Regions from separate parts of the Homo sapiens genome. Here regions 1, 3, 4 and 5 are each linked to region 2. Evidence: fine-mapped expression QTL. A gene starts in region 2. Each other region holds a variant in brackets. All regions are shown on one strand. Distances are between the middles of the regions.

Region 1 (5,135 bases), 190 kb after region 2:
ATTAGAAAAGGCCCTTCGGTTTAGGTAGCATTGAACTAGATCAAGAACAATTAAATTTTGAATATTCACAGATCAGGAAGAAAAGATCCAAGAAAAGAAGGACTGCATAAGCCTATTATAGAACAAATATAGAGCTAGAGCTCTATATTAGAGCCAATCCATTTGACATCTGGGATGGTTCTGCCTTTTCAAGGTCACCCCAACCCATACCTCTTCCACTAGAAGGAAAAGAAAATGTCATGGGATCCTTCCTTTCAAAATTGACTGCTTGGCTTTTTCTGGAGAAGATGGGTTAATCAGTTTCAATCCTCCATTTCAGTGATAGGCTTATTTGTGAAGGCCGGGTTAAAACTGACAAAACTACCCTTTCTGGTTAGAGGTATTCAAATCTTCTGTTTTGAGATTAACCAGAACCCCTCCCTTTTCCTTGGTTCTTTTCCTATGCTTTTGTGAACAGTTTTTCTGGAAATCTAATGCATGATCCCCCCTGCTAAGAACATTGAGTAGAGAGCAGAGGGTGATATATGTGTATCCCTTTTCTCCATGATGATGGCTCTGGCTCAAAAAACACTTTTACTTCTTTTAGTTCCTTCGGATGAATGCAGAAGACAAGCAGACTGCTGGACTGCCAGTAACGGGCATATCCATAAGGACAAAAAGGAGGGCCAGGCGTGGTGGCTCATGCCTGTAATCCCAGCACTTTGGGAGGCCGAGACAGGCAGATCACTTGAGGCCAGGAGTTTGAGACCAGCCTGGTCAACATGGTGAAACCCTGTCTCTACTAAAAATATAAAAATTATTTTTTTTGAGGCGGAGGTTGCAGTGAGCTGAGATAGTACCACTGCACTCCAGCTTGGGTGACAGAGTGAGACTCCGTCTCAAAAAAAAAAAAAAATAGAAATCCCACTAAAAAAGAGTATGAAAAAGGAAAGATTTAAAAAATTTTCAAAACACAAATGTATGAAAGATCTTTTACATAATGTCTTGGCCAAGGACAATAAATTTTAGTAGTTAGTCTTTTCCTAACTTCATTATTACTACATCATAATAATAATGAAATTTATTATTATTGCATATTAAATGTTTTATTTGCAGTATTGTGATGAACATTTACTTGCAAGAGATTTGTCATAAGAAAACCTTAAAACTTTTATGTAACCATTTTTTATCTTGTACAAGGATAAGTTTTGAGGTAAATTAAAGATGGAAAACAGTGGAAATAAAAAGTTATCTAGTGTCTAAGTTTAGTTCAAAGCCATGCTTACTATCTTTTCTGGTTTCTATGATGACATGGTTGTTGAAACATGCTTCTGATCTTTGGGTAATGTATTACTGTTAACATAAACCATTGTGATGACATAGGAAGCACCAAAACCTATCTTCAACATTTGAAAAAATCAGGAGCCGTGTATAAGTCACAAAATGACCTTTTCTTCGTTTCTGGGTTGTTAGTGCAGCATGCTGAGAAAAACAGGCTCTGCAAGGCAACATTAACTGACAGAGTTGTGGGTCAAATCTCTTTATTTTAAAAGAGGGGTTACTTTGGAGCCAAAGTTAAGTGTTCTTAGGGTTTGGGCAGAAACAACAAAAAAGGAGACAATTTTAAATAAGGTTTCTAAATGCAGTCAGAGTGGAGCATTGTTATGTAATCAAGTCCTTTTGGAACATATCAAGATTTTGTCCATAGTAGTGTAAGTATTTTAGCATTAAATTTCTGTGCCTTGTCATTAATATTTTCTGCAGCTTGTTGGGTAAATAACTCTTATCTGTAATCATGCCTTGGGGATTTGAAGTAAAAGTTGAAGGGTTAGGGAAGGGCAGTGTGAATAGTAAACACTTGGTCCAGGAAGAGAACATGTAATAACTTTAGACAGTTAGATAAAAGCTCTCTTTGCCCTTCCCGCTGCAGGAAGCCTGTTTGTAGGTACACTTGCCAAAACTCACAAAAGAGAAGAATTGTTTTAAAGAACGTGAAAATGTTTTTGTACTGTGTGTGAAATGGGAAGGTAGGAATAAGGCATGCCTGGGAAGAAAAGCTAAATTGAATGTGACCAGAAGTTTACTGTTTTTAAATTTTTATTATTATTAATTTTTTAGAGACAGGGTCTTGCTCTGTTGCCCAGACTGGACTGAACTGGGCACAAGAGATCCTCCCATCTTAGCCTCCTGAGTAGCTGGGACTACAGGCATGCACCACTGGGCCCAGCTGTTTTTTTTTTATAATGAAGTGTTCTGTGACGTAGTACCTTGAATTTGACCTTTTGCATTTTAATATGAGCCACCTTTTGTGAAATAGATTATTTTTGCAAATATTTTATTTGTTCCAAGTAGCATTTAATATACTGCAGGTACCAACTAAATTAATTACATGTACATGGGTAAAAATACATGTTTATTTCTATATTTATAATCTCAGCACTTTAAAAGTGAGCTAAAAATAATCCTACAGCTACCCATGGAAATAAATAAAAATCACTTATCAAGCCAGGTGCAGTGCCTCACACCTGTAATCCCAGCACTTTGGGAGGCCCAAAATGGGAGGATCACTTGAGGCTAGGAGTTCAAGATCAGCCTGGTCAACATAGCAAGATCTTGGTCTCTACACAAAATTTAAAAAAAAAAATCAGCTGGGTGTGGTGGCATGCACCCGTAGGCCTGGCTACTTGGGAGGCTGAAGTGGAAGGATTGCTCGAACCCAGGAGCTCAAGGCTGCAATGAGCTATTATTGCACTCCAGCCTGTGTAACAGAGTGAGATCCTGTCTCTGTCTCTCTCTCTTTCTCTCTCCTGTGCATGCACACACTCCAGCCTGGGTAACAGAGTGTGATCCTGGCTCTCTCTCTCTCCTAGCGCGCGCACACACGCGCACACACACACACACACACA[A/CACACAA]AATATATTAACTTTTCAGTTCTTTAGATTTAACAATAATTTTCCTACTTTTAAGCTGAAAAATGCCCTCCTCACCAAACTTTTTATAGTTATTTCTCATATTTTTAATTTTTTGACATTTAATGATTCTGCATTCCTTTCTGCTAGTAAAACTGTCCTTTTATGCCTATGTTAAGGCCCAACTTCCCATCAACATTTATCTATACCATATTTTCATGTGATATTGTATTCTCTAAAATTTCTATTATAAGGAATGTTGAGCTAGATAACTAAAGGTCAATTTTTTAAAGCATTGTCATGTTTTGGTTGTAATTTTGTTTCAACCTCTTGTGACAGGAATCTTTTGAAAAAATACTAATTTTATTAAATATATTGAGAGTATTCAAACTATGCTTCTTTGATAAGGCAGGCTTATCATACTGGTAAGTAATTCTATTACATTTTAGATGCCTAAATTAAAACTATTTGAGTATCAAAATATTGTACTCTACAAATATGTACAATTATTATGTGTCAATTAAAAATAGCTGGGCATGATGATTCACACCTGTAATCCCAGCTACTCGAGAGGCTGAGGTGGGAACATCGCTGGAGGCCAGGAGTGTGAGACCAGCCAGAGCAACATAGTAAGACTCCTACCTCTAAAAATAAAATAAAATATAAAATACATGTATAAGAAAGGGAAAAAAACTATTTGAGAATATAACTTGGAATTAAAAAAAATAAATTCCCATATCATATTTGTGTCATTTGCCTGTTTATGTTAAAAGGGTATATGCAGCTGTACAACTTGCCAGTTACTTATTCCTTCTTACAGTTAATCATATTCATTGTCCTTTGACTTTTCTTTAAAATTAAAAATGTATTTCTTCACTATAAAATATTAATAAAAGTTTTTAAAAATACAGAAAAGCATTGATAAAAATTTCAAATGTTCAAAATTCTATTATTCACAGGCTACTATATGCATTATTAGTTTGTTTTATGTTGAAATGAAATATTTACTGAAATGAAGGTGTTCATTAATGAAACAGCAGGTTAGTGTCATGAACCTATTCCTGCAAAAGATGAAAATGACAGGAGTGGCCATAGAGTGAAATGTGTCTGTGGTATTACCTAAGAAAGAACTAAAATAATCCACTGGATTAAGTGACAAGGACATTAGTGACCTTGGCATTAATAGTTTCAGTGGAGTGGTTTGGATTAAAGCTATAGAAATGGAAACATGTTTAAATAGTTTTGGGGTTTTGTTTTTTTTTTTGTAAGGAGGAGGAAAAGAAATTTGGTAGTTTCTGGGAAGGAAATATAGGAAGATGATTTTTTTTTAACAGGGTGAATGAAGATACAGGGGCAGAGGATATAATTCAGAGATTCTGTAAGAAATGGGAAGAAATGGGTTCCAGATCCATGTTAGACTGATAATCACGAACTAGAACGAGGGATACTCTTTCATTGTAACTAGAGGGAAAGAAAAAATGTGGGAATGCATAGTGGTGAAATTGGAGCTTGAGGAAAGAAATTTCAGAGAGTCCTAGTTCCAAATATTAGCATTTCTTCTAACAGAAATGCCTCCTTACGGCATTTTAAATAAAACAAGTTTTAATTTCCATTTTTAAAATGTATGTATTTTTACGAAGTAGCTGTTATGTAGTTTTTGCATTCTCCGTTGTTTATTAGCTCTTAATTATTTGGATTATATCATGAGCATTTTCTCTTGTCATTAAGTATTTTAAAAGACTGCATAATTTATCCAATCTTAGGGCATTTAAGTTTTTTGTTTTTGTTTTTGTTTTTTTGAGACGGAGTCTCGCTCTGTTGCCTAGGCTGGAGTGCAGTGGTGCGATCTCGGCTCATTGCAACCTCCGCCTGCTGGTTTCGAGCAATTCCCCTGCCTCAGCCTCCCAAGTAGCTGGGACTAGTGGCACATGCCACCATGCCCGGCTAATTTTTGTATTTTTATTAGACATTGGGTTTCACTATATTGACCTGGCTGGTCTTGAACTCCCGGCCTGAAGCAGTCCACCCTCCTCAGCCTTCCAAAGTGTTGGGATTATAGGTGTGAGCCACAATGCCTAGCCTCACTTTATGTTATTATATGATGGGATGAAATATCATCAAACATCCCTCAGCTTTTTTTATTCTAAGTTATTTCTGTAGGATTCATTTTTAGAGCTTGAATTGCTGGGTCAAAGAATATGAATATTTTATGGTATTCTGGAAAATATTAACTGGTTTGTATATGTGGCAAAG
Region 2 (5,135 bases):
CCCCAGTTTCCCCAATTATTAACATCTTGCATTAGCAGGTACATTTGTTACAGTGGATGAGCCAATATTGACACATTATTAACTAAAGTCCATTGTCCACACTAGGGTTCATCTTCGTTTTGTGCATTCTATGGGTTTTGACACATGTATAGTGATACACATCTACCATTACAGTATCCTACAGAATAATTTCATGGCTCTAAAAATCCTCTGTGTTCCATCTATTCATCCCCTCCTTCTTCCCACCCCAACCCCTGGCAACCATTTATCTTTTTACTGTCTCCATAGTTTTGCCTTGTCTAAAATGTCATATAGTTGGAATCATATAGTATGCAGTCTTTTCAGATTGGCTTCTTTCTCTTAGCAATACATATTTAAAGTTCTTCCATGTCTTTTTGTGGCTTGATAGCTCATTTAATTTTGGTACTGAGTAACATTTCATTGTTTGGATGTGCCATTGTTTATCCATTCACTTATTGAAGGACATCTTGTTTGCCTCTAGGTTCTGGCAATTATGAATAAAGCTGCTATCAACATTCATGTGCAGGTTTTTGTGTGTATGTAAGTTTTTAACTCATTTGGATAAATACCAAGGAGTTGTGATTGCTAGATGGTATGGTAAGAGTACGTTTAGTTTTGGAAGAAGCTTCCAAATTGTCTTCCAAAGTGGCTGTACCATTTTGCATTTGCACCAGCATTGAATGAGAGTTCTTTTTGCTCCACATCTTTGCCAGCATGTGGTCTTGTCAGTGTTTTTGGATTCTGGTATCTAATAGGTATGTAGTGGTATTTCATTTTTGTTTTCATATACAATTCAGCAATGACATATGATGTTGAGCATCTTTTCATCTATTTGCCATTATATAACTTCTTTGATGACGTGTGTATTCAGATCATCTGACCATTTTTTTTAACTGGGTCATTTGTTTTCACGTTGTTGAGTTTAGACTTGATTTTATAGAACTCTTTTGCCAATGACATGAGGCTTAAACAAGCACCCTTGCTTGACCCTGGCTAGTGTTGTCCAGAGGCCCTCATGGGTGAAGTATAATTGCACAGTTTATGCATACATTGTAGCAAACATAGCTTAAAGACTCTTCATCCAGGAGCTGGTAACAGAGAAAAGTTGTCTAAGAGACATAGTCCACTGAAAGGGGTCTTTGAAAAGGAGGATTCTGGCCAGTAGATCCAAAGAAGAAGGCTGGCAAACGCCACCTTAACCAACTGATCCAAGTTAACATCAGTGATGAGACATCGACATCTTGTCCTTCTCGAGCACGTACATCACTTCTGGGGAACTCTTTCCCAAAAAAGCGCAACCTGAATCCAATTAGAAGGAAATGTCAGACAAAATGAAACTGAGGGACATTCTACAAAACGACTGGCCAGTACTTTTTAAATGTGGTTTGATCGTGAAAGAAAAAGAATGACAGAGAACCGTCCTAGATTAAAGGGAGACTAAGGAGACACGACATGCAATGTATGATCCTGGATTGAATCTTGGAACAGAAAAGGACCCTTAGAGGGGCAATTAATGAAATGTGGTAAGTGCTGTAGATTAGCTAATCGCATTATCCCAGTGCGAGTGCCCTGTGTTTGATCACTGCACTGGCGTTATATACAATGTCAATATTTAGAGAAGCTGGCTGAAGGGTTACGGAAATCTCTTGTGCTGTTTTTGCAACATTTTCGAAAGTCCTAAATTATTTCAATTCAAATGAAAAGTTTAAAAAACAAAAATTAGAAGTTCCAGAAGGCCGCGCGCCAGCCGCTCCTGCGGGACGGGACACCCGGGTTCTCCTGGTGGGAGCCCCCAGTGCCGTTCACGTTCCGCCCGGGGGGGGGATTAAACTCGCACGCGAGAAGCACCGCCCCCGCTCCCGCCCCGCCCCGCTCCTCTCCGGCCGCGCAGCCGCTGCCGCCCACCCGCACCCGCCGTCATGCTCCGGGCCGCGCTGCCCGCGCTCCTGCTGCCGTTGCTGGGCCTCGCCGCTGCTGCCGTCGCGGGTAAGCCCTTACGTAGTCCCTCGCCGGGACCGTGCGCGACCGCCTTCGCCCCCTTCCCAACGCACGCTCTTCGTCCCCGCGCACCCGAGGGCGGCCCGCAGACGCAACACCCGGCCGGCCATCCCGCCCTTCCCTGCACGCCCGTCCCCCGTGGGTCCTGGCTCCGGGTCACCTCTCACCCGCCTGCCCTCGGGGAGGGGAGGTGGCCGAGAATAAGGGAGGGCTCTGTCTTCCTCGGAGTCCACATCCTCACCGCAGACCCCACTCCGCGGGGAGGGAACCCCCAAATTAGGCCAGTTGGCCGGAGAACTGAGGGACTTGGAGTCGCACGACGGGCGCCGTTTCAGGGCAATTTCGGGCTGAAATGAGAAGCGGGGACGTTGGTGGCGATTTCCCCTGCTGGTGCGCGGCCGGAGTGGGGTTGCTGGGATGGGGGTGGGGGCCGGAGGAAGTAGGCCCTCTTTTGCAAGCAGCGCTGTTTGTCTAGTTGGTTGGTGTTCAAGTTGTTTAAACAGGAAAACAGTTCAGCCAAATAACCCCTGGATGGAAGAGGAACGGGAATAGGCAAAGCTTGGATTTCACTGAAATCAAGGAGTTTTAAAGTTCTAGTCTGCTGTTGTGCAAGTGACATCTGAAAAATCACACACGTGATCATTCATTTACAAAACGACTCGTGAGGAAAATGCACAATTCTATTGACCGTGGTCTTTATTTTTAAAAAATTTCCATACAAGCATGTCAAAAATATGTGGATGGGGAGACTCTGGAGAACACAGACTTCCAAAAACACCACTGACTGAATAATTCCAGGAATTAAAGAGCAAAATAAACAAGAACTAAATGAGTACTTGTGTGGGCTTAAATAAAGTGCAAGAGATTTAAATAAAATGCAAGAGATTCCCCCCCCCCACCCCTTGCCCCAGATTTCACTGCGTTTTTATAATAACTGCCTGCTCGAAGTCTACTGACAGGAATATTTCAGTGGACCTCAGTGTTGGAGGCAGCAGCAGCTCAGAACTTGGATACAAACCCAAGGTTCCTTTCTTGAAAACTTCTGTGGACCTGCATTTATGACTGGTTGTGACATCTGCTGCCTATCAAAGGGGCAGAAACAAGATGTGCCCATGTTCACATTGTTCAGACTGGGAACATTAATTTTGTCTAAGACAAAGCTGGGCTGTCTCTGAACCCTCCTTCTGCACACCCTCATTTTGCGAGCCAGTAACATCTCAACTCTCATGTAAACCACCCTCTGCGAGGCTGTGCATTTGTACTTTAGGCTAGTCGAATTTTCTTGTCAGATTTTTCTTTCTTGTCAGACTTTTAAAGAAAATCAGTTTCTAGATTTTGGTATGTCTCTTCTTCAGTGAAGCTGTTTTGACCAGCAATAGAGGGCAAATTTCCCTTTGGAAATTTTTGTGCATTTCCTTTGATAAGTCCAGTGTGGATCAATAGGCTTTTCAAGAGCTTTAGAAAAGTGCATGATGAATAAATTAATGTTAATTAATCAGCTCCTCCCAGTCAGGAAGCTTTAAGGATTAATTTGGAAATGAGTGTGAGCTTTGACCTAGCTAGTTAACCAACTTATCTGCACTTCAGTAAAACAGAGATAATACTTACTCATGGGGCTATTGGGAGCATTAAGTGGGAACTCCACGTCTAGTCCCTATTACAGGCGTGGTTCATCTTGGTTTCCTTCCCTTTATTCTCTTCATACAAAATGAAGGGTAATTGTTGCAACCAGAAAACGTATGAATACCACCTTATGTATATTGGATGTTTATGGTTACTGAACACATTCATATGTATGCTAATGTTATAGGGCTGAAAAACTAAGTGTGTTTTTCATAATACTTTACAAATCTCCCATCCAAGCAAGATCAGGGGTCATATTTGGCTTAGAACTAAGTCAAGAAAGAGTTTGTTGCTGAATACCAAGATCTTAATAGAAAAGCTCTTATGATGTTGCATAATAAATATGGGTATTGCATATAAATGTGATGTTGAAACGGAAATCATTGTTATTGTCTGTCATTCTGGAGGTTATTAGTGAAGTGATCTTAACCTTGTTCTTAGCTATTATTTTGAAAATCACAGTGGACAAAACATTCTTTAAATTCCTGAGTGAAAATCCATGGCATCGCTTTAAAAAGTTTTTCCGTAAGGGTGCTTAAGCACATAATAGATGATCAGTATGTATTTATTTGGTCAGTGGTTTCCTATGCCTGGCATGAGCTGAGTGAACAAGCATGTTCCGAGTAAGTCCTCATTCTGTGATCATCATGTGGATCAGAATCTAGGGATTTTGAATTGCCATGTCCTACAAGCCTTAGATGAGGTGCCTCTGCCTTCTTCCCTGATGTCATCTCTTACCACCCTTCCTGCCATTCACTCTGTGTATCCACAGAGTAAACAGTATCTGGGTACTCCAACACCTCTGGTCCTTCTGTGCACACCACCTTCCCCCAGTCCTTGGCATGGCTGCCCCCACCTCCACCATTCAGATCTCTGTTCATATGTCACCTTCTCCGAAGCCTCCCTGAACACCCACATTCTCTGTCACATGTCCATGTTTTATCTTTTCCAAGCCTTTCTGAATGCATTGTGTTTATTCATCTGTCTTGCTTGTTGCTTCTCTTACCAGGGGAAAGAAGCTCCATAACAGAGATTTTACCATCTTGTGGATTTTTGTTTTGTTTTGATTTGTGTCTCTGCACTTTATTCTAAGTTATAATAAAAGGATGAAAAAATTTAGGTGAGTTATTTAAAAAGTAGGTAGGATAAGTGGATTGCAATTTTTTTCAAATTATATTACCTCTGCTATGCACTCATTTCATAATGAATTCAAAGCCTTAAATCATCTTAATCTATTGCTGCCACCTTTTCTTTCTTTCTTTTTTTTTTTTTCCGAGATGGAGTCTCACTCTGTCACCCAGGCTGGAGTGCGGTGGCGCAATCTCGGCTCACAGCAACCTCTACCTTCTGGGTTCAAGCAATTCTCCTGCCTCAGCCTCCCGAGTAGCTGGGATTACAGGCATGCGCCACCATGCCTGGCTAACTTTTGTATTTTTAGTAGAGATGGGGTTTCACCATGTTGGCCAGGCTGGTCTCAAACTCCTGGCCTCGTG
Region 3 (5,135 bases), 74 kb before region 2:
TTATGTGTATTTTTATTATATGTATATATATTTATATATATATTTGGTCTGCATCAGTCAGCTAGTTCCATAAACAAACCACTAGATGCCATCCCAAAATTCGGTGGCTATGACAACAAACATTTAGCCTCACATTCTCACAGATCTTCAGGCCAGCTAGAGTTTGACTGATCTAGTTTGGGCTTGAATGGTGACCTCTGCTCCCAACTTCAGGTCAGCTGTGCTGGGCTCCAGCCCTTCCTTCTAGAGCTCAGGCTAAAAGGGCAACAGCTCACAGGGGTTTGTTGTTCTCATGGTATATCACTGGAGCCCAAGAAGGCAAGCCAACCATATAAGCACATTTCAGGCCTCTGCTCAGTTTACCTTCACTAATATCCCATCAACACAGTAAGTCATATGGCCAAGCCCCATGCCAAGGTACAAAGACGTATACTCCGCCCACCAGGGGGCTGTGGCAAGACCATCTAATTATATTACAAGGAACTGAAGAATTGGGACAAATATAATTCATCCTGTCATTGTGTCATCATCTCTTCTTCCTCCTCTGCCTCCTCCTCCTCCTCTTTTTCTTCTTTCTTCTTTCTTCTTTCTTCTTCTTTCTTTTTCTCCTTTCTTCTTCTTTTGAAACAGCCCAAGTTCCAGGTTTACTTTTGCCACTTTCTGTCAATATTCACACACCAGTGCAGACTGCTCTTTGGTTGTTCCTCGTCAGAAAATAGTGCTATTTTTGTGTGGGTCACTGTGTCTTATATTCGAAATTTCTATTGTTAGCACATTTCTTTGCCAAAGGCTACTCCCAAAGCATTTATATGTATCCTTTACAGCCTTGCCTCCTGGTTCATTTTATCTTTCAAGGTCCTAGGAATACAGGAGAACGTGGATCTTGTTGGAATAGTTCCCCAGCCTGGCTGAGGAAGGCCATCCATCTGACCACAAGGACTGGCATCTGTGCTGGCCTTTAGTTGAATTGACACTTTCAGCAGGACCTGTCTGTGTCTCAGTATATGTGCATTTACCTATGCCTTCACTACACCTTTAAGAATTCATTTCAGGGGCCCACACATGTGACAGTAATTGACTTTAGCACTATGAAATACTTTATGATAATACCATAAAACAAATTAATATTATATTTTGCTAAGGTATTCCATGCAGAAAGAATTGTAAGAAAGAGGAACTGGGAAGAAGCTGAACGATTCTGCCAAGCCCTTGGAGCACACCTTTCTAGCTTCAGCCATGTGGATGAAATAAAGGAATTTCTTCACTTTTTAACGGACCAGTTCAGGTAATACTTTAAGAATGAGAATTTCTATGCTGAATTTGATGTCCTCTAGATATTCAAAATTGACATGTTCTTACCCTCACTCTCTGTTGGAAAAAAAATGGACATGTTTTATTATCTAAAAGGTCATTTGGTGCTTAGCAGTCATGGAACATTAAGCACTCTTAATGTGCAGACACTATGAGGAATCTAAAAATGAATGAGATGTATTCCCTACCCTTTGTTTAATAAAGTCCAACAGCAATGTATGGCAGAAAATCTAGAATATAGGCAAGGAAGGGCCTTGGGAATTCAGAGGAGGGAGGGAGTGTTTCTGGGAGTATAATCAGGAAAAATGTCATAAAGAAGGCTGATTCTTGGAAGGTAGGTATTATTTCAAAAGGCAAGATAGGAGAAGGAGAAGGAGCCAGAAAAAAAACAGAACATAAGCAAAGGAACTAAGACCAGAATATACAGATATGGTCAAGGAGAAATGAGTCATACAAATTAGCTAGAAAATGGAATTTGGATATGAAATTGGAATGTCCTTGTTTGCAAGGGAAGGAGTTTGATCTTAAGTAATTAAACACAACCAAACAAAAAACAAAAACAAGGTGCGTGTGTGTGTATTTATATCTACACACACTCACATATACCTGCATATATACATATATACACAGAGAGGAAGGGGTTGGCCAGGCTGGTCTCGAACTTCTGACCTCAGGTGATCTGCCCACCTCAGCCTCCCAAAGTACTGGGATTACAGGCATTAGCCACCACACCCAGCCCATTATCAGTTTTGATTAAGTGTGAGTCTGCAAATTTGTTCAATAATAATAAAGTCCAATTCTGCACTTTTGAAAGAGACTTAAAACAAAGCTTGCCAATTAGTACTTATCCAGCTCTAAGACTATAATGTTCTTTTCCTGGGAGGAAGGGGCCACAAAATACTACAAAATTGTGAAATTCTAATAAAAATCCTTAAAAATTTAAAAATTTTTTAAATTTTTTAATTTTAAAAATTAAAGCAACTAGCAACATTTTCATTGTGCAACAGATAAAAGTTAGTGCTGAGTAGCTGGTGGCCTCCTGAAATGGGGCCTGACTCTCCAATTTGCCAGGTCTCTAATTTATTACTTCTTGACCCCACTTCACTTGCTTATGTTATGTGCTTGTCTTATATTTACTCAAATAGCAATTGAGTTAATAATCACAAGTCATGTGATCATCTTAATAGGTACTGAAAATGCATTGGGTAAAATCCACTATTCATTCCTGGTTTAATACATAAATATACACTTATATTTAGTAAATATAACTAATATGTAAATTCTTATTTGAATAGAAGAATAGCTCAAATTAATAGCCATATCACACTTAATGATGAAGCATTGTTAAGTGCATTTCCCTGAAAGTCAGAAAAAGGTAAGTATCCCTATATCATCACTATTGTTAATCTTGGTTTGAAATTCAACTCCTGCACATTAAGATAAAAACAATACTATAATGTGTAAATGTTTATATATATTAAGCAGAGGAAAAGACAGATTATCAAAGAGTAAAAAATATACTATTTACATTTAAAACTAGACTGCAAAAAGGGTAATGGCTATTATATCTCTAGGAAGTAAGATTTTGAGTGATTTTTAAAGTCTTTTCTATGGGCTGGGTGTGGTGGCTTATGCCTGTAATCCCAGCACTTTGGGGGCCTGAGGTGAGAGGATTGCTTGAAACCAGGAGTTCGAGACCAGCCTGGGTAGCATAGGGAGACCCTATCTCTATTTAAAAAAAAAAAAAAAA[G/AG]AATTAGCTGGGCATGGTGGCACACACCTGTAGTCCTGGTTACTCAGGAGGCTGAGTCAGGAGGATCACTTGAGCCCAGGAGTTCAAGGATACAGTGAGACAAGATAGTGCCACTGCACTCCAGCTTGGGCAACAGAGTGAGATGCTGTCTGTAAAAAATAAATGAATAGAATGTTTTCTTTGAAAATTTCTATATTTTCCAGATTTGCTTTTTGTTTTGTTTTTTGAGACAGTCTTGTTTTGTCACTCAGGCTGAGGTACAGTGGCATGATTACAGCTCACTGCAGCCTCAACCTCCCAGACTCAGGTAATCCCCCCACTTCAGCCTCCCAAGTAGCTGGGACTACAATCACATGCCACCACACCCAGCTAATGTTTGTATTTTTTTGTAGAAACGGGTTTTTCCATGTTGCCCAGGCTAATCTCAGATTCCTGGCTCAAGCGATTCACCTTCCTTGGCCTCCCAAGGTGCTGGGATCACAGATGTGAGCCACAGTGCCTGGCCCAGATTTGCTCTAATATAGCTTCTGCTGTGTTTTTCTCATTAGAGAATGTAGTTTCACTACAGTGTACTGGGAATCTAATGCAAAATATGATACCTGTGTTCCATAAATATTTATTTATTAAGCATCTATCGTAGAATCTCAGGTATTCTAGACATCATTGTCCAGTGTTAGAAATTAATATACAAAATTTCACTGCAGACTGACCCAAGGCAATTTGTATATACTAAATACTAACTCTTGGGTTCTTTGTGAGGTGAGTGTTAGCTATTCCCTCAACCTTGAGAATAGATTATAACAAATGCAAAATTCAGACCAAAATTTTCCACACATACAGACATTTGCTATGCAAACATTCATTGAAGCAGACACAAAACATTTTATACAACGTGTTTTGTAAGCTTGACAACATTCCAGCAATCTGTCCTTTTTGGTGTTTTAACTATCACCTTGCACAGATTTACTTGAAGCAGATGTGGCAGTGTTCTGTGGCAGCATTCTGTTCCCATTGTAGTGAGTATCAGGCCATCACAATCACCTGACCCAATGACTGGATGTGGGGTTGTTTCGAATCAAGCCCTACTAAGATACAGGCTGCGGCCTCGCAAGATTCTAATACACTCTTGAGAAGTGTGAGAGTTTCTCTAAATATTTTAGCTAATCCCTGCATCTCAAATAACTTATATTTCACCAGTGAGAGCCCAATCCTACCATCATGCTGATGAACAAGCTTCCGATTTCACTGACATTAACCCAGTTCTCACATTCATTCTGCTCATGACCAAAGCCTCCAGTGTGACTTTGGTGATCATGGAAGTCCTCATGGTGGCCACCTCTGGACCATGGCCTTTCTTTTTCTTTTTTTTTTTTATTATTATACTTTAAGTTCTAGGGTACATGTGCACAACATGCTGGTTTGTTACGTATGTATACATGTGCCATGTTGGTTTGCTGCACCCATTAGCTCGTCATTTACATTAGGTATTTCTCCTAATGCTATCCCTCCCCCATCACTCTGCCCCACAACAGGTCCCGGTGTGTGATGTTCCCCGCCCTGTGTCCAAGTGTTCTCATTGTTCAATTCCCACCTGTGAGTGAGAACATGCGGTGTTTGGTTTTCTGTCCTTGCGATAGTTTGCTCAGAATGATGGTTTCCAGCTTCATCCGTGTCCCTACAAAGGACATGAACTCATCCTTTTTTATGGCTGCATAGTATTCCATGGTGTATATGTGTGGGGCATGGCCTTTCAAATACACCACCAATACTTCCTGACATGTAAGTTTCAAGCAGGGCAACTTAATGGCCCTTAGATTTCAAGCTTGACACACACAATATCATATTATCCAGATAAAGTATTTTTAAGTAAAATGCTGACATAAGCTCTAGATTCCAAGCAAGAGGTTAGTAACTCTAACTGGAACGAGGAGCCATGGATAAGTACTAATGAATGAGGTTGTAGATATTTGTGAGAAACAATAAGTAGAAAACATTGGAATATCATATGTGATAGAAATGACCATTAAGAGCATCCATATACAGAACGAATTACACTAGGAAACAAAACATGAAA
Region 4 (5,000 bases), 59 kb after region 2:
AATTCCTGGGCTCAAACAATCCTCTGCCTTAGCATCTCAAAGTGCTAGGATTACAGGTGTGAGCCACCACATCTGGCCTGGCTTTCTTCTAAGACATTACTATTTATACTTTATTTTCTATTATACTTCAATTATTAATTTTTAAATTTATTTTTTATAGAGATGGGGTCCCACTATGTTGCCCAAGCTTGTTTTGAACTCCTGGGTTCAAGTGATCCTCCTGCCTCAGCCTCCCAAACAGCTGGGATTACAGGCATGAGGCACTGCACCCAGCCAATATGGTTCAATTATGAGAAACATATTGCCTGCATTCAGGGGATGTATTAGTTCATGGTAACACTGGAAAAGAAACTTTGAAAATAAAGTAGAAGGTGTGAGGCTGAAAAGGTAGGAATGGGCTACATCAGGAATTCGCCCATCCTTTGCCTAGAGAATATTTTGTAAATTGATAATGGCATTTTTCAGCTTAGCACAAACTTAGTCTCACAAGCCTTCTGTACCTAATATTACAGACACCCAATCAATGAACTGGAGCTAGCACAAGAAATGAAATTAATTTGATATTTTAGAATCAAACCATTTCATATGCCATCATCATCAAGGTATCAGGGACCTTATCCTGCAGGCCAGTGGTTCTAAAACCTCTGGATTTCAGAGACCAAAATAAAAAAATGTTTTAATTTAAAATTGAGAAAGAACTGTCACTTTTGACCAGTAGGACATCTAAAATAGCAACTAATACCTAATCCTGTCCCCAATTTTTAAAAAAGGAATAAAGGATATAATTCAGAATGAGCACTTTAAATTGAATACATTTGTACAAACTCCATAACTTGTCATTATTTTTCTCATTTTGCACAGACTGCATAAACTTACTGAACAGCACTTCTGCAAACATGATTTTGGGAACTAATGAAGGGGGGGATAAATCAGATCTACTACTATATAGAAAGACTTTTAGAGGCATGTGGAAGACGAAATAGATGAACAGAAAGAAAACCAATTAGGAAGCCATTAGAATATCAAGAAATAAGTCCCTATGAAGTAATGGGAATAGAGGGCAATTATAAAAGATAAAAATTCATCAGATTTAGGGACAATGTGAGAAATAGAGAAAAAAGTTTTTTGGTACTGTCTACTGGTGAAATAAATGACTATGCCATTCATTAAAAATACTGATTATAGGGGAGCAGATTTAGATAATGAATTTCATTTGATTCTTGAATGCTGAAGTGTCCAAAGACTTAAAGTGACACTCACTGTTCATTAAACAATTTTCATGACTCACGACACAACATGTAGATTATATGGCTATATCCAAGACAAAAAATGTTTGTTAATATCAGCATATAGATATACATATCAGTATACATAATGTCAGTATATAGAAGGAATGTTTTGGTTAGTTTTGCTATTGGCTTGAGTTCAAAATCAAACCTTTTCCTGGTTCCTACAATCCAATTTTGTCCATATTTGTTCAAATATCCTCAGTCTGAAGCAATTGTTTTTTTCCCTCGGAATTCTTTGAACAATTAAATAAAGTGTCAGATTCATTTAACAATGTATTATCTCTTCTGCTGTCCAGAACTATAGGCCAAATGAAATCAGGGAATAAGTCTGTCTTCAAAGTATACCACATTGGGCATGACGAATCCTTAAACAAGTAGTTTTGGGGTTGTTTTCACTTATAAACAATGCCGTTATGAACAACTGTAAATTTTTGTATGGATGTATGTTTTCAATACTCTTGGGTGTAACTGATAGATCATGTAGTAACTTGATGTTTGATATTTGGGGGAATTACTATTTTTCCAACTATAGGTTGATGCTAACAGCTGTGATGGCAGCAGCAGTTCATCTGGAGCGGCTGCCACAAAGACGCCGGCTGCAGCAGGGGAGGCGTGGCAGGGTCTGTGCGCTCCACAGAGTCAGCAACAGGTGGGAGCCCTGACCACTTCCAAGTTGGTGGGGTGGGAGCCCTGTGCTCCCTGACCCAGCTGTGGCTGTAGACTTGGGTATCCCTGTGCTCTCAGGGGCCTGAGAAGCCTCCCTTCCCGCCCCCGCCTCCTGCTCCGATTTTGGAGCAAAGTTTTGGCCAAGCTTGGGCACTGTCACGATCCAGGTGTGTATGCGCATGCTTGGGGCAGTGCCGACACACCAGCCCACTGCTACCTTGGCCCCCGTCTGGACTTTGGGCACCAACAAGCACAAAGGGAAGCCAAGGGGGAACTGAGGGTGGCTTGGCATGGGTCTGCAGGCATCCCTTGGCACAAACAGCCTGGGTGCCATGAACAGTAGCAGGAGGCAGACATGCTCCTGGGTGAAAAGGGGCAGGTCCCTAGTGAAACCCTACCTTTAAGCCTGGGATGGCCTGAAGCCTGGAGGCTGGGCTGCCAGTTCCACGGACCGGAGTGAGAACTTATGGTGCTTATCCCAGGCCCACCCATTGCCTCCCATGGACCAATCAGCATGCACTTCCTCTTCTCTGAAGCCCATGAAAATCTGACTCAGCCAGATGTCAGGCTGACTTCCCTATGGACAGGAGCTACCCACT[C/T]CTGTCTGGTCTCCTCTCCACTGAAAGCTACACACTCGTTGGGATGACCTGCCTGTGGAAAGGAGCCACCCACTTTGGGTCTCCTGAGAGCTGTGCTACTGCTCAATAAAGCCCCTCTTCGCCTTGCTAACCCTCCAACTGTCTGTGTACCTCATTCTCTCTGGACGTGGGACAAGAACTCGGGACCCGCCAAATGGTGGGACTCGAAGAGCTGTAACACAAACAGTGCTGAAACATCCCTTCCTACCCCCCACTCACCATGCTGCCGGCGACAAGGACGGAAGAGCTCTGACCCTTTGGGGAGTCCAGACCTAGGAGCTCCCTGAACCAGGGCTGTGACAACCTCTTTGGGGCTCTGTAGTTCCTTGTGTCTCCAAGCTTTTGGGTGCCACTGCGTTCCTCAGTGCCCACAGAAGCTGCTGCCTGTGGTACACCTGATCCATCCACAGCCTCATAGGGCACCAGTGCCTAGAGCTGCCTGCCCCACTGCACCCAGTGTGCCTGGCTGTAAACGGTGGCCGGACCCTGCGCTCACTTGCCCATGCACCCCCTGCCGATCCATGTCTGGCTCACCCTTGGCAGGCGTGGGATCCGAGCTGATAGCACGAGTCGAACAAAGCCTGCCAGTCCGAGTAGGCAGAACACACCCAGCAGGCCCGAGCAAAACCTGGGCAAAGGCACCACCAGCCACAGAGGCTTCTAGCTGGAAAAGCAACACTCCAAGTGCTGACAGCTGTACCATTTTACAGTCCCATCAACTATGTATGAAGGTTCCAATTTCTCCACCACTTACCAACACTGTGATTGTCCATCTTTTTTTTTAATTTTGAGACAGGGTCTCAGCTCTGTTGCCCAGGCTAGAATGCAGTGATGCAATCACAGGTGACTGTGGCCTTGACTTCCTGGGCCCAAGCAATCCTTCCACCTCAGCCTCCAGAGTAGCTGAGACTACAGGCATGCGACACCATGCACAGCTAATTTTTAAATTATTTCTTGGTAGAGACTGGGTCTCACTATGTTGCACAGGTCTCAAATTCCTGGGTTCAAGCAATCCTCCCAGATTTGGCCTCCCAACTCAGGCCTGGGATTACAGGCATGAGTCACTGTGCCCAGCCTATCCATCTTTTTTATTTTGGCTATGCTAGTGGGTGTTAAGTATCTCACTGTAGTTCTGACTTGCATTTCCCTAATGACTAATATTTTTTCATGTGCTTATCAGCCATTAATATATCTTTGGAAAAATGTTTATTAAAGTCCTTTGCCCATTTGAAATTGGGTTATATTTTTATTGTTGAGAGGTAAGAGTTCTTCATATATTCTGGATACAAGTCTCAGTATCCAGTAAGATATATACTTTGCAAATATTTTCTCTCATTCTGTGGATTGTCTTTTCACTCTCTTGGTATCGATGCACACAAATTTTAATTTTTATGAAAACTAATCAATCTTTTTTTGCATTTCCTGCCTCCCGACTATGAGCACTCGTATGAAACTAGATGGAAGCAACTAAATTTACACTGGAGTTTAAAGAGGTTTCTTTCTTTTTCATTAACTTTCCAGTCTCTACCCAGACAGGTAACAGATTTGGCTCCCAGAGTAAATAGTTTTCATCAGTTATTTCCAATTCAAAAGGCTATCTGTGATATGGTGAATTGTATGGTATATGAATTATAACTCAATAAAATGAGGGAAGAGGTGGAGGGCTATCTAGCCCAACCAAAGTAGCTGAAATACTATATAGTGTATCTGAGAAATCATCAATAAGACAGCTTGGAGACTTAATAGCTATAGATACTCTATGCACAATGAATAGAAAATAACTTTCCAAGACTTTATATAACTAGCAGGCATCCAATTTTCATTTTATTTCTTTTTACCTTCATAATAGTTATTCATACCACCTTTCCAACAAGAGGTTTACTGGAAGTATAGTCAATGAAATCATTTACTATTACTATTGTATAAGTCAATATTTGCTTTCAGAAAATTATTTCTAAGGTTTTAAAATATTTTCCCAACACAAATGCCCTTAAAACAATGCAATTAAAAAAATAAAAAAACTTAAGGAGAAAATATTTGCAAATCATGTATCCAATAAGGAGCTTGTATCTAGAATATATAAAGAACACTTACAACTGAGTAACAAGACAAGTGTACTTTAAAATGAGCAAAGGAACTATTATAAATAGGCATTTCTGAAAAATGTACAGTAAACGGCCAATTAGCACATGAAAAGATGTATAACATCATTAGTCATCAAGGAAATCCAAATCAAAACCACAATGAGATACATACCACTTCATACCCATTGGGATGGCTAGAATCAGAAAGTAAGATAAGTGCTGATGAGAATGTGGAGAGACTGGAATCTTCATACACACAAAAGGGAATGTAAAATGATCTAGCCAGTTTGAAAACAGTATGGCAGTTCCCCAAACGATTGAAC
Region 5 (5,135 bases), 27 kb after region 2:
CAAAATAATTCTGAAAAGTTTTCACATTCTTTAGAGTCGATTACTATACATAATACAAGTACCTGCCCAAAAGTATGTTTGTTCTCCTAAACCAGGTTATTTTCCTCAATTTATTAAACTGGATTCTTATAGAAAGATTACAAGGGTTTGAATAGGCAAGAACTGCAAAGTTGTGCATACTTACAGAAATTTAGGGAAACACACAAAGAATGAATGAATGCAAAGACACACAAAACCAGGTACTTTACTGCAGGTCTTGGTGTTTTTTTCAGTTAAACAAATCTTAAATCCCCAAAGCCAGGTGAACCATTAAACCTCAATAATGTAACACATTATCTAAATACTAGAATTCCTAAAGGGAACAGTAGGTCTGAATTTGTAGTCTTAGATCAGAAAGTAAAGCGAAGGAAGACAAACTGGAGCATGGTATATACTTGCGTGATTTCCACTATGGGGTCTTCAGTAGAGTGGAGAAGTGCACAACTTCCTAGAAAATTTGAGTACTATTCTTCAGGCTAAGAAATATAAATCTTGTTAGTAACAAATGCGAAATTTTTGGTTTTCTCATCAGTGTGGGAAATTCTCAACACAGAGAAATGTTTACACAAAACTACAGTTGTGCTCATCAAAATATACTTGCAACTTGTGTACCCTAATTTCCCAAATACTCTTTTGTCTTTTCCTTTTCAGATAACCACATTTTAATATCAGCATTGGTGATTGCTAGCACGGTAATTTTGACAGTTTTGGGAGCAATCATTTGGTTCCTGTACAAAAAACATTCTGATTCTCGTTTCACCACAGTTTTTTCAACCGCACCCCAATCACCTTATAATGAAGACTGTGTTTTGGTAGTTGGAGAAGAAAATGAATATCCTGTTCAATTTGACTAAGTTTTTGGTAATCTTGCACTAAGACATCAACAAAATGCCCTGGCAGAGATAACTTGGGAAAGATTTTAATATAAAACTTGACATTGGATATTAGAGCTTTAATGGTATTCCTTATTCCAGTAACATTTTTATGTACTCATCTGCTGTGAAAAGTCTTTAGGTTCATTAAAAAAACAGGTTTTAGAAATGATCTTAGATCTAATATAGTGATTTTAAGCATCCCGTCAAAGGCAGAATCTGTCACTTGAATGAAGGAAAGCTTAAAGCCCAAGCAGATAAAAATAAAAGCCCAGCCTATTTGTCTTGCCTGCTGTATCTTCCCTATTTAGTTGACCCACTTTAGTTTATATGTTTATTAGTAAACATGAAATGGGGAATAAGTGATTTTAAGTACATCCCATACATTTAAATATCTTTGATAATTGTTATTTTTTTGGCAGATAATTCCTCTAGAATGTGTATCTTTTTATGATTTAGATGAAGAAAATTTTACAACTTTTAACACCCCACACCAATTTTAGTTTCATTACTTTTACACACACCATTTTATCACAAATGACTCAAGTTTTAATGAATGTTTATAAATTATTTGAAACAAAATATGATCGCTGTGTCCAGGATGGCATAGAGAAAGCTGGCAATTAGGTTAACACTTACATATTATAGTGCCCCTTTAAGGATTTCTCTCTTGCCACCATACCTTTTGTACTTTCCCCTATACAAGATGTATCTCATTCTCCTCAAGCATTTATAAATTTTTCCTTCAATGACATGAAAACTGTGCAAGCAAAAACCGAAGAAAAACACTTAAGTACAACTGTAGTGACAGTGATCAAAGTTTTCAGTGCATTTATTGTACATTTTAAGAAAAAGGTGAAAATCATTTGGGGAGTAAAAAAATGAAAAAGCTGAAACGAGTAATTTTCCTCACCATCAATAAACCAAAAACAGGAAAGATAAAGAATGTATAAATTTCACGTAAATTAGTCACGTATCACTTATCAATGGGGATACGTTCTAAGAAATGCATAGTTAGGGAATCTTGTGTGAAAATCAGCTTGTATTTACACAAACCCAGATGGTAGAGCCTATTTTGTCCCAAACCTACACAGCATGTTACTGTGCTGAATACTGCAGACAATTGTAACACAATATTTGTGTATCTAAATATAGAAAAGGTACAGTAAAAATATGGTCTACTAAGGAAACACTGTTCTATATGTGGTCCATTACTGACTGAAGTATACTGTCTAGAAGTCTGAGGCTCAAAGAAAAGTAATCCCTCTTCTGAATCCACACCCCATCAATTATCTTACTTTCTTCTGGGGAGATAGATAGATATACTATCTCACTAGCTTGACTAATGGCAACAAAGTTCCAGCTTGTGTAGTCTCTTTTTATTGACCACATGAATCGAAAACACTCATCACAATTAATGGCACTATCATTAATGAGACATGAGTAACTAAAAAGTGATAGAAAACTATTAACAGTGCGGCTACATGGTACTGAAAATGCAGGCATTACACCAGCTGTTACACAAGCACAAGCATGCTCTGTAAGAGCTTTACATTTCTGAGATTTTGTATAGTGATTGAGATGTCTATTTTATTATTGATAGACTATTACTAATGTCAATATTGAACACTACCCTGGAATTCCTGCCTGGTTTTCCTACCCAAATTGTACCACTCCTTGAAGAACTACAGGCACAGTAAAAAAAATATGGCGTATTATGTGAACTAAAAGAGTTCTAAAGGAGTTCTTAAAGGAGTGGTAGAATTTGGGTAGGAAAGTGATTAAGTCCAACTTAAAACCAACAGTCTCAAACGTCTACAACTACAATGTCCAATGAGCCACTAGCCACATGAGGCTATTTAAGTAAATTTAGTTTAAAATCCAGTTTTCGAATTACATTAGCCACATTGTCAAGTGTTCAAATCACAGGTGGTTAGTGGCTACTGTACTGGGCAACATACATTATAGAACATTTTCATTATAGGAAGTTTTATTGGGCAGTGCTGCTCTTAAATCCTACCTTCCACTCAACTCCCATACAACTTTCTTTTGTACATTTTGATACTTTCTACCTAATGGCAGCTCTTCCAAAATAGCTGCTTTAAACTCTGATTTAATTTTCAATATTTGGTTTCATTTTTCAACAGGCCAAGAGGCCTCTGGTAATGAAGTGCTATATATATATATAT[G/ATG]ATGGAGTCTCACTGTGCTGCCCAGGCTACAGTGCAGTGGCTCGATCTTGGCTCTCTCCAATCTCCGCCTTGCAGGTTTTCAAGCAATTCTCCTGCCTCAGCCTCCTTAGTAGCTGGGACCACAGACATCTGTCACCACACCCAGCTAACTTTTTGTATTTTTGGTAGAGACGGGGTTTCGCCATATTGACTGGGCTGGTCTCAAACTCCTGACCTCAAGTGATCCACCCACCTTGGTCTCCCAAAGTGCTGGGATTACATGCGTGAGCCACCACACTTGGCCTACATTTTTTCTTTATATACCAGAACATCTATAACAGGCACCTTATCTACTCATTAGTGAAGAGATAATTGGATTACACAGGCAGGCTTGTTTACTACATCCAGAATGTAGAAACTGCTTTCTTCAACATCTTGGTTCTAGCTAGTAATAACAATATAATTCTTTGGCAGATATTCAGAATAACATTTTAAACTACATTTTCTTAGAAAATTGCATTCTTGTAGTGAGCAGTGTATGGTCTCTTTTGTTCAGAATTTAAAACTGATAACCAATGAAAGCCTTTTCTCTTATTCCTCTACCGTCATTTACATGATAATCTGAAGCTAATATGACAATATTTAAATACTAAGTGGTACTAGGGAACTACAAGAATACTGTAAAGCTTAAGCCATTGTTATCACTGTCATTTAGCATTTAATAACAAAACTATACAGAATTATGTGCATACCAATGAATGTTTTGTACCATCTAGTTAAATTTTTTAAATAAAGTTTTATGGGTTAAGCAGAAGACAACTGTCATACTGAATTTTATTAAAAGTATATATACTTCAAATTCAAAGCATCCCTTAGGACCCACAGAATATATTAAAACTACCACCCTTAAATTTTATATTTTTGCTTTAAGACAGACAATGCAAAGGTAACTGGCAAGAGGTGAGCAAATGTTTTAGAACATTTATATTATTGCTTAAAATGAGATTTGAAATTGTAATAAAATTCTTGGTTATGAAGTCTGATGTCTTCTTTGAGCACCAGTTTAAAAGGAAACATTTCAAACAGTAAAATAAATCAGTGTGTACTTTATTTTGAGCCAATGTTTTACATAAGACCAACAAACTAAGTGTGGGCAAACTGTTCAATCACTTTTGAGAAATTACATGGTTCCTATTTAGGTTTGAAAAAGTAGTTTGTTGCCATAACATCAGACCTTAAGGTGTTTTAAAGTGTATCCTAAGGGTACTGACAGAAGAAAAATACAGTGTTATGGAAGTATACACAACTCATGACCACACAGTATAGATCCATTCATGGTGAATAATGTTCATCTGTTCTCCAAAGGTAGTGAAAAATATTAAGTCATCAAATAAATGCTCAGAATTACCAAGGAACAGTTAAAAAGGACCAGGATCCAAACAGGTTATTTATATATTTATCTATAAACAAGTGACAACACTAAAAAACACATTGAAAACCAGTGTTTTAAACTCTGAATGTGGGATTTAAAAATATTCCATTAACTTGAGATTGCAATAATTTTTTTAAACCAAATAGCATTTGACTGGCAAGTCTCATATAATTTACAGCTGTAATATTCCTAAAAGGAATATCTACATACTATAGCCTATCAAATATAATCTGCATTTTGCAAATCAATACAAAAATCTATCCATCATTTATACATTTTATATTTATATACTTTTTAAAAATTAGATTTTATTGCTAGGTGAATTTGGAATTCAAATTAAATTTGGAAACTTAATAATGCTCTTCTCATAACCTTCTCCCCATTCTTTTTTTAATTTTTAAACACTGGAAGCAAATGATTATCAAAATGAGACTGCAACTTAAGGCATTTTAAAAGAAAAAATAATTAGGTGCCATATAGCATTTTATTTCAAAAGTATATTTTGTCCCACTTTTCTCACTAGCAAGAGTAAAACACAAACCTTTTTTCATAAATATGACTACAGTAATCATAACACAAAAAAGGGTTGATAGGCATTGCTTAGATATTTAAAACAAGGGTAAT

Evidence for each region. PIP is the estimated chance that this variant, and not a neighbour inherited with it, causes the effect.
Region 1: its variant is fine-mapped to the expression of CD302 in whole blood (INTERVAL, PIP above 0.99).
Region 3: its variant is fine-mapped to the expression of CD302 in whole blood (INTERVAL, PIP above 0.99).
Region 4: its variant is fine-mapped to the expression of CD302 in whole blood (INTERVAL, PIP above 0.99).
Region 5: its variant is fine-mapped to the expression of CD302 in whole blood (INTERVAL, PIP above 0.99).

What each region holds. Positions count from the first base shown.
Region 1 is chr2:159,602,683-159,607,817 of GRCh38, reverse strand. The region is part of intron 1 of BAZ2B (bromodomain adjacent to zinc finger domain 2B); the gene reads left to right. Among named protein-coding and RNA genes, the nearest start is that of BAZ2B-AS1, 10 kb to the left of the region's middle. The variant A/CACACAA (reference allele first, on the strand shown) is at 2,886.
Region 2 is chr2:159,795,004-159,800,138 of GRCh38, reverse strand. CD302 (CD302 molecule) reads left to right here and starts at 1,931. Exons shown (of 6, transcript NM_014880.5): 1 at 1,931-2,007. The coding sequence starts at 1,941. All of the region lies in intron 33 of LY75-CD302 (LY75-CD302 readthrough), which reads left to right. It overlaps LOC124906083 (a long non-coding RNA gene), which reads right to left and starts at 4,949. Exons shown (of 2, transcript XR_007087273.1): 1 at 2,187-4,949; 2 at 1-1,320.
Region 3 is chr2:159,868,601-159,873,735 of GRCh38, reverse strand. It overlaps LY75-CD302 (LY75-CD302 readthrough), which reads left to right. Exons shown (of 38, transcript NM_001198760.1): 13 at 1,143-1,285. It overlaps LY75 (lymphocyte antigen 75), which reads left to right. Exons shown (of 35, transcript NM_002349.4): 13 at 1,143-1,285. Among named protein-coding and RNA genes, the nearest start is that of LY75, 34 kb to the left of the region's middle. The variant G/AG (reference allele first, on the strand shown) is at 3,062.
Region 4 is chr2:159,736,171-159,741,170 of GRCh38, reverse strand. All of the region lies in intron 4 of MARCHF7 (membrane associated ring-CH-type finger 7), which reads right to left. Among named protein-coding and RNA genes, the nearest start is that of MARCHF7, 26 kb to the right of the region's middle. RefSeq lists an enhancer at 2,590-3,582. The variant C/T (reference allele first, on the strand shown) is at 2,555.
Region 5 is chr2:159,767,609-159,772,743 of GRCh38, reverse strand. MARCHF7 (membrane associated ring-CH-type finger 7) reads right to left here. Exons shown (of 12, transcript NM_001282805.2): 12 at 1,717-5,135. It overlaps LY75-CD302 (LY75-CD302 readthrough), which reads left to right. Exons shown (of 38, transcript NM_001198760.1): 38 at 691-4,116. The coding sequence ends at 893. It overlaps CD302 (CD302 molecule), which reads left to right. Exons shown (of 6, transcript NM_014880.5): 6 at 691-4,116. The coding sequence ends at 893. Among named protein-coding and RNA genes, the nearest start is that of CD302, 28 kb to the left of the region's middle. The variant G/ATG (reference allele first, on the strand shown) is at 3,101.